Homo sapiens: one gene and its partner. The protein of the gene in region 1 interacts with the protein of each later gene in a pairwise test. Each region holds a gene or a part of one and is shown in the gene's direction. Other genes may lie near its edges. The genes, in order: ANKRD29 and GTF2H5.

What was found.
Region 2: the proteins of ANKRD29 (region 1) and GTF2H5 interact in binary tests that used the Homo sapiens proteins (3 or more experiments, as listed by UniProt).

Annotation. Positions count from the first base shown.
Region 1 is NC_000018.10:23,659,856-23,664,163, reverse strand, and holds the start of ANKRD29 (ankyrin repeat domain-containing protein 29), read left to right. Parts: upstream 1-1,252; 5' UTR 1,253-1,433; coding exon 1,434-1,454; intron 1,455-4,308.
Region 2 is NC_000006.12:158,185,114-158,188,924, forward strand, and holds part of GTF2H5 (general transcription factor IIH subunit 5), read left to right. Parts: intron 1-3,811. UniProt on the Homo sapiens protein: Component of the general transcription and DNA repair factor IIH (TFIIH) core complex, which is involved in general and transcription-coupled nucleotide excision repair (NER) of damaged DNA and, when complexed to CAK, in RNA transcription by RNA polymerase II.

The DNA of each region.
Region 1 (4,308 bases):
TAAAGTTGTTTTAAGCACAAAGTAATACAATTTATCCATGAAGGTTAAACATTTTAATTTTTATCATTAACTTTTATTTGTAATTGTTTTCTACCTTTTAAATTAAATATTCGTTACAAATTTAATTGAGAAGAGGGAAGGAGGGGGAGAATGAATGAGTGGATTCTTATAGTTTGAGGGGGTAAGACCTCCATTTTTATACTATTTTTTTGTTTTGTTTTTATTTTTATTTTTGAGGCAGAGTCTTGCTCTGTTGCCCAGGCTGGAGTGCAGTGACCGAATCTTGGCTCACTGCAGCCTCAACCTCCCAGGTTCAAGCGATCCTCCCACCTCAGCCTCCCGAGTAGCTGGGACTACAGGTGCGCACCACCACGCCTGGCTAATTTTTGTATTTTTAGTAGAGATAGAGTTTTGCCATGTTGGCCAGTCTGATCTCGAACTCCTGGACTCAAGTGATCTGCCCGCCTTTGGCCTCCCAAAGAGTTGGGATTATAGGCGTGAGCCACTATGCCTGGGCTACTTTTTTACTTTCACTTTTCTAAAATGCTCTCAAAGAGCTGTTGTTGCCGTTTATACTTAAAACTCCCAGTTTTACTTCGCCCAAACCAATCCTGGGCAGGCAGCAGGAGTGGACACACATACTGCAATACTCCAGGGCTGCAGCATCAGACCCAGAGGAGGAGGGAACTGCTGGATTAATAACGCGGAGGAGGAGGAGGGGTATGAGTCTATTCCAAAATTGGCCTTTGCCCTTCAAAGAGGAAAAGACCACTTATTGTTTGTGCAATCAAAAGGTTTGTTTCCTAGATATTTTCCCCAGGAGAAAAAAGTTTCCCAGGAAACCGAGAAAGAAATTATAACGAAAATAGCTATTGGATGAATTTTTTCCTCAAGCTTCATTTTTACATCATTATAATATTTGTGCTGTAATGAAGGTTGGGAGTCCTCTGGGGCAGACCAGTCTATTTGGGAGGATATGTATGGAGTTTGTGTGTGAGTACATGCGGGTGAGTGGGCGTGAGTGTGGAAAGTATGTGTGTGGAACCTCTGTGTGTGTGGAATGTGGAGCGTATGCACAATGTGTGTGGAGTTTGGAGTGTGTGTGTGGACGAGTGAGTGTGGAAGTGTGGACGTGTGTGGAAAGTGCACAGTGCGTGCGGAGTTTGGGGTGTTTGTGCACGCGCGTGTGTGGCAGGTCCTGGAGCGCGTCCACGCGACACCCCATGTGTAGTGTGCGCGCGCGCGCGCCCCCGCGCCGCCCCTTCGGCCCGGCCCTGTGTGCGGCGGCTGCTGCCGGGCCGGGCGGCGGGAGCGCGCGGCGTCGGAGGCCGCCCCTCTGCGGAACGCCGAGAGCCCCGGGAGAGTGAAGGGCCGGGGAGGACAAGGCGCCCCGGGCCCAAAGCGCGCCGGCTCCCGCTCGGGCGGCCGCGGACATGTGCAGGATGTCCTTCAAGGTGAGCGACCGGGACTCCGGGGTCAGGGCTGGGGCCGGGCTCGGGCGGCCGGGCCCGCGGGGTCGGGTGGGGTGGGATGGGGTGGGATGGGGTGGGCGCTGCCCGCTGCCCGCCGCCTCCTCCTTCCTCTCTCCTCCAGCTGCGGGCGAGGCCCGGGAGGAAGCGGCGGGGCTGGGTGCGCCCTGTGGGTTTGCGGTTTGCCTGCCTGCCCTGCCTGAGAGGCTTCGCACTCATGGCTGTGGATCGGCTGAGTCTGTGCCCGGCGACGGGGCGGCGGGGACTGTCGCCGGGTAACAGGTCGGGGGCGGGTAAGAAGCCTGGGGTCAGCGCTGTCCTGCAGCAGAAGGAGTCCCCGACCCTGACCCTCTGGGTCCTCATGCAGGAGTACCAGCTGCACCCACGGATGCCTCCTCCCCGGAGGGGTGGCCAGCACCCAGGGAGGCTTCAGGGTCCAAAGGTGTCTTGTCTCAAAAGAGTTGATTAAAGTCATTCCATCTAATCCCCACATTTTAGGATGAAAGAGGTTGATTTGCCTCGATTGAAAGGGTTTAATAAAAATAGCAGTTAAAATGTATTAAACAGTTCAAATGTGCCTGACTCTGAACCAAGGACATGGTGTGTATGGTCTCAACCCTGGGGGAGACCTGTGGGAGGTGCTCTTCGTGGCTCTTTTTTTTTTTTTTTTCAAATGAGAAAACTAAGATATAGAGAAATTAACTCACCCACGGTTTTGCAGCCAATAAGTTATGGTGTTAAGACTGAAACCCAAGTGTGTCTGACTCCTAAGCCACTGTAATCCCGTTGCCGACAATAGCTCATGTAAGCAGAGGAGTGACATGGCGAGATGTGCATGTTGCAAAGATCTCTGGCTAGGTTTGGAGAAGAGGGTTGGAGCTGGAAGATGTTGTCATCTTTTTAAGAAATGGTACTGGACCAGTGCATAGGTGGTGAGAATGGAACGAAGCAGACGAATGTGAATGACTTTAAAGTTTTTTTTCCTGAGACGGAGTTTTGCTCTTGTTGCCCAGGCTGGAGTGCAATGGTGTGATCTCAGCTCACTGCAACTTCCGCCTCCCGGGTTCAAGCTATTTCTCCTTCCTTACCCTCCAGAGTAGCTGGGATTACAGGCGTGCGCCACCATGCCCAGCTAATTTTTTCGTATTTTTAGTAGAGACGGGGTTCTGCCATGTTGGCGAGGCTGGTCTCGAACTCCTGACCTCAGGTGATCCACCCTCCTTGGCCTCCCAAAGTGCTGGGGTTAAAGGCGTGAGCCACTACGCCCGGCCGACTTTAAAAGTTTTAAATCGGCATAATTCAGTAGGGAAGGCAAGAGAGATAAAGATAAAACGTTTGGTTTGGGATAAATTTTGAGGATAGATGGGAATCCAAGCAGAGATGTTGATTAGACAGATATACTCTCCTCGATCCCAGGAGGCAAGTCTGGGCAGCAGCTAGAGATGAGATTTAGGAGTCAGCAGTGTTAAGTAGGCACCCATGGGAATGAACATGATTGCCCAGTGGAACCATATAAAGGTGGAAAATAAGAGGACTGAGGACAAAATCTTGAAGAAGATTTGAGAAAGAGCAGCCAGAGACGAATGAGAAAACTCAGAAGCATGTGCTGTCACTTACACCAAGCATCTCTAATCTTTCAACAAAGATGAAGAGGACCTTGATGTTTATTAATGCCACAGGGAAATCAAATAAACAAAGAATTGAAAAGTCCATTGGATTTAGTGACGGAATAGGCACTGGTGACCTTGCCAAGAGCACTTTCAGTGGTGTTAGGATCAGGAGCCAGATTGCAATAGCTTGAAAGAGAGTGGGTAGAATCCACAAGTGTGGAGAACTCTTTCAAGAAATTCTGCAAGAAACAGATTTTTGTTAGTTTGTTTGTTTGTTTGGACAAAGTCTTGCTCTTGTCACCCAGGCTAGAGTGCAGTGGCGCAATCTTGGCTCACTGCAACCTCTGCCTCTCGGGTTCAAGCGATTCTCCTGGCTCAGCCTCCTGAGTAGCTGGGATTACAGGTGCCTGACACCAAGCCCAGCTAATTTTTTGTAATTTTAGTAGAGACGGGGTTTCGCCATGTTGGCCAGCCTGGTCTCGAACTCCTGACCTCACGTGATCGCCCGCCTCAGCCTCCCAAAGTGCTGGGATTAGAGGCATGAGCCACGGCACCCAACCCAGAGATTCTTTTTAAAAGGCAGTGGCTGCAGCAAGGATCTGGAATTGACCAAGTGTTTGTTTGCTTTAAAATGGTAGAGACTTGAGCATCTTTAAATGATGATAGGCACTTCAACAATAAAAAGACAAATAAAGCCTAATTTTAAAGTGGACATATGAATAGACATTTCTCCCAAGAAGTTTACAAATGGCCCGTAAGCACCTGAAAAGATGCTTAACATTATTAGCCATGGTCTTGGAAATGCAAATACAAAACTGTAATGAGATACCACTTCATACCCGCTAGGATGGCTTTAATCAGCAAGACAATGACGAATGTTGGCAAGGATGTGGAGAAATTGAATCTGCATGCATTGCTGGTAGGAGTATGAAGTGATGCAGTCATTTTTATTTATTTATTTTATTTATTTTTTTGAGACAGAGTCTCACTCTGTCAGCCAGGCTGGAGTGCAATGGCATGATCTCAGCTCACTGCAACTTCTGCCTCCCGGGCTCAAGCAATTCTCCTGCCTCAGCCCCCCGAGTAGCTGGGATTACAGGCATGTGCCACCACGCCCGGCTAATTTTTGCATTTTTAGTAGAGACGGGGTTTCACCATGTTGGCCAGGCTGGTCTTGAACTCCTGACCTCAGGTAATCTGCCTGCCTCGGGCTCCCAGAGTGCTGGGAT
Region 2 (3,811 bases), on another chromosome or scaffold:
TTCATGACAAAATGTCCCTTAAACTTTGAGTGTCTTTTTTTTTTTTTTAATAATTAAAGAGTCTTTTTAAATCATTACATGTTATCTTTACTTCAGGTACATGCTTGAAAATTCAATCTCAAATTGTCTTTCAAAAGTTTGAGGCATGCCAGACACGGTGGCACACGCCTGTAATCCCAACACTGGGAAGCCGAGGCTGGAGGATCGCCCAAGCCCAGGAGTTCAAGACCAGCCTGAGCAATGTGGTGAAACCCCATTTCTACAAAAAATACAAAAATTAGCCAGGCATGGTGGCGTGCGCCTGTAGACCCAGTTAGTCAGGAGGCTGAGGTGGGAGGATTACCTCATCCCTAGGAGGTTGAGGCTGCAGTGAATTGGGATTGTGCCACTGCACTCCAGCCTAGGCAACAGAGTGAGGCCCTGTCTCAAAAAAAAAAAAAAAAAAAGTTTGAAGCGATTGATATTAAAGCGTTATTTCAGTGTTCACTGGCCAGTCATTCCTCTAAGCTGTCTCATTTGTCAGTTAGCATATTTCCCCAAGTGTGCGGAATACCATTAGTGTTCAAGATGATTTGAAGAACATACATTTTGGGGGAGTAGAATAGAAAAATAGGCCAGGCTCAATGGCTCACAACTGTAATCCCAACACTTTTGGAGGCCGAGGCGGGTGGGTTGCTTGAGTCCAGGAGTTCGACATAACAGAACCCTATCTCTACAAAAAAATACAAAAAAAATCTGGGTGCAGTGACATGTGCCTGTAGTCCCAGCTACTGGGAAGGCTGAGGTGGGAGAATCATCTGAGCCCAGGAGGTCAAGGCTGCAGTGAGCCGTGATGACGCCTACTGCCCTCCAGCCTGGGTGACGGTGAGACTCTGTCTCAAAAAAAATAAAGAGAGCAAAAAAATTTTTTATATGACCAGTTTAATTTATTTGAGGAGAAGAGGAAACTGACATATCAAACTCTTGGTTTTATGCCAGATGAAACGTTAGTTGATTTAAAGGCAATTTAAAGAAAAATATTAAGTGATTTGCAACAGAGATGTTACAAGAGATGGCTAAAATAGCAAGGATGGTATACAAATGGCAAACATTTTGAAAGCATTGGTGTGATGATTCAGCACAGATATGAGTCCTGAGGCGCTTCTTGGTTTTAGTGGTTTAGCTCTGACTTCATTAAGATGATGTAAATTTATTCCATTTAGAAAATTCCCAAAGTCTTCATAACCACTTAACTCTTGCTGCCTTTAATACCTGTTAGTAGTAGCCAGTTACTGAGAATAAATTGGTGTCATCTGAATGTACTGAGCTCAAACTGTAACAAGTTAATCTATCACATGCAGACAGCAATGTTTCAATGTCCAGTTTGTCTTTTATTACTGTTACATTTGGATCCAAAGTTTATTTTAAAGGGCTAACACAAAACAACTGTTGGTCCTGTAAATCAAAAAGTATCTGAGACAAGTCTCAATCAATTTTGAAGTTTATTTTGCCAAGGTTAAGGACATGCCCATGACATATCCTCAGAAGGTCCAGACAACTTGTGCCCAAGGTGTTCGGGCTACAGCTTGGTTTTACACATTTTAGGGAGACAAAATATCAATCAATACATGTAAGATGTACATTGGTTCAGTCTGGAAAGGCAGGACAACTCAAAGCAAGGGGAATGGGGGGCGGGCTTCCCGGTCATAGGTAGATTCAAAGATTTTCTTATTGGCAGTTGATTGAAAGAGTTATTATCTAAAGACCTGGAATCAATAGAAAGGAATGTGTGGGTTAAGGTAAAGAGCTGTGGAGACCAAGGTTTTATCACGCAGATGAAGTCTCCAGGTAGCAGGCTTCAGAGTTGTTTTTGTTTTGTTTTGTGTTTTGTTTTGTGTTTTGTTTTGTTTTGTTCTTATTAGACGAAGTCTCCCTCTTGTCTCCCAGGCTGGAGTGCAATGGTGTGATCTCGGCCCACTACACCCCTCACCTCCTGGGTTCAAGCGATTCTCCTTCCTCAGCCTCCTGAGTAGGTAGTATTACAAGCGCCTGCCACCACGCCCGGCTAATTTTTGTATTTTTTTGTAGAGACGGGGTTTCATCATGTTGGCCAGGCTGGTCTCGAACTCCTGACCTCAGGTGATCCACCCACCTCAGCCTCCCAAAGTGCTGGGATTACAGATGTGAGCCACCGCACCTGGCCCAGAGCTCTTATCAGACCTAAAAAGGTGCCAGACTCCCCTGGATCAGGGAAAAGACCTGGAAAGGAATGGAGAGTCTCTACAGAGTCGATTATTCCCACAAGAGACAGCTTTGCAGGGCCGTCTCAAAATATGTCAAAGAAACATATTTTGGTGTAAAATACAATTTCTTTCAGGGCCTGCCATCTGCCATGTGATGCTTTACAAAAGTCAAGCTGGAATTTGGTGTTTTATTCCTACAAAAAGTCTGTTACCTGGGTCTTAAGATCTCTGTTTTTTTGTTTGTTTGTTTGAAATGGAGTCTCGCTCTGTTGCACAGGCTGGAGTTCAGTGGCGCGATCTTGGCTCACTGCAAGCTCCGCCTCCCAGGTTCATGCCATTCTCCTGCCTCAGCCTCCCGAGTAGCTGGGACTACAGGTGCCTGCCACCACATCTGGCTAATTTTTGTATTTTTAGTAGAGATGGGGTTTCACCGTGTTATCCAGGATGGTCTTGATTTCCTGACCTCGTGATCCGCCTGCCTCGGCCTCCCAAAGTGCTGGGATTACAGGCGTGAGCCACCGCACCCGGCCAAGATCTCTGTTTTAATGTTAATACTGGTCAGCTATGCCTGAATTCAAAGGGAGGTGGGTATGAGGCATGCCCAACCCCCATTCCCATCATGGCCTGAACTAGTTTTTCAGGTTAACTTTGGAATGCCCTTAGCCAAGGGGAGGGTCCATCAGTCAGTTGGCAGATGGGGGGTGGGGTGCTTAGAACTTTATTTTTGGTTTACAATCCCATTGTGTAAAGTGTATACTAAGAAACCTCTATGATTTTTATAGAATATATTGAAGTACTTGTGGGGCCTGGAGAGTGAAGTGGGCACCACGGTCATATGAGTCCTCCCTTGTTTGCAAGGAAAGCTTAATTGTAGAGCACTGAAGTCCAGGTTTTTGTCTGACTCTCCCCTCCCCAGCCATCATACCTGTCTACTGTTGAATTACTCTCCTTTTATTCTCCCCACCAGTCCCTCCCCTTCTACCTTTATTTGTATGTGCAAGGAAGATTTGAGGGAAACAACTAAATTTTTAAAGAGTCTGAGTAGAAAAACAATGGTTTTCAAGAAACTGAAACTTTGGTTTCTCTGTCCTATAGGCCTCATTTTCCTTTCTGCAATATCATCGGGAAGCACCCTGTTTAACCTGCTTCATCAACCCCACGTTCCTTCTAGAATTGCTCTTCAAGCTTTTTTCTATTTTATGTTTCCACCTGTGCTCTTTGTCAATAATTAATCAATTGTTTACCTCTGAAATTTCTCAGTGTACAGTGTCTTACTGTTCTAGAAAATCTTTTCATTTAAATTCTTATTCTGTATAATACTCAAATTAGAGAATTGCTGAAAATGTGAAGTTTAACATTTTTTTGTATCTGCTTAAATCAGTGACCATTATGCTCTGTTTGTAAAATACCCCATTCATCCTCCTGTCACCAGCTGTTGTTGCCATTCAGTTGCATGTCAGTGTCATCCCGGAGATCCTCATTCTCATTAAGCCTTATATGCCGATTTTTCCTTTTTTTCAGTCACCCAATAAACCACAGACTCCCAAGCTATCTCTGTCTCTTGCATTTTCATGATCTATGGCCCTGTT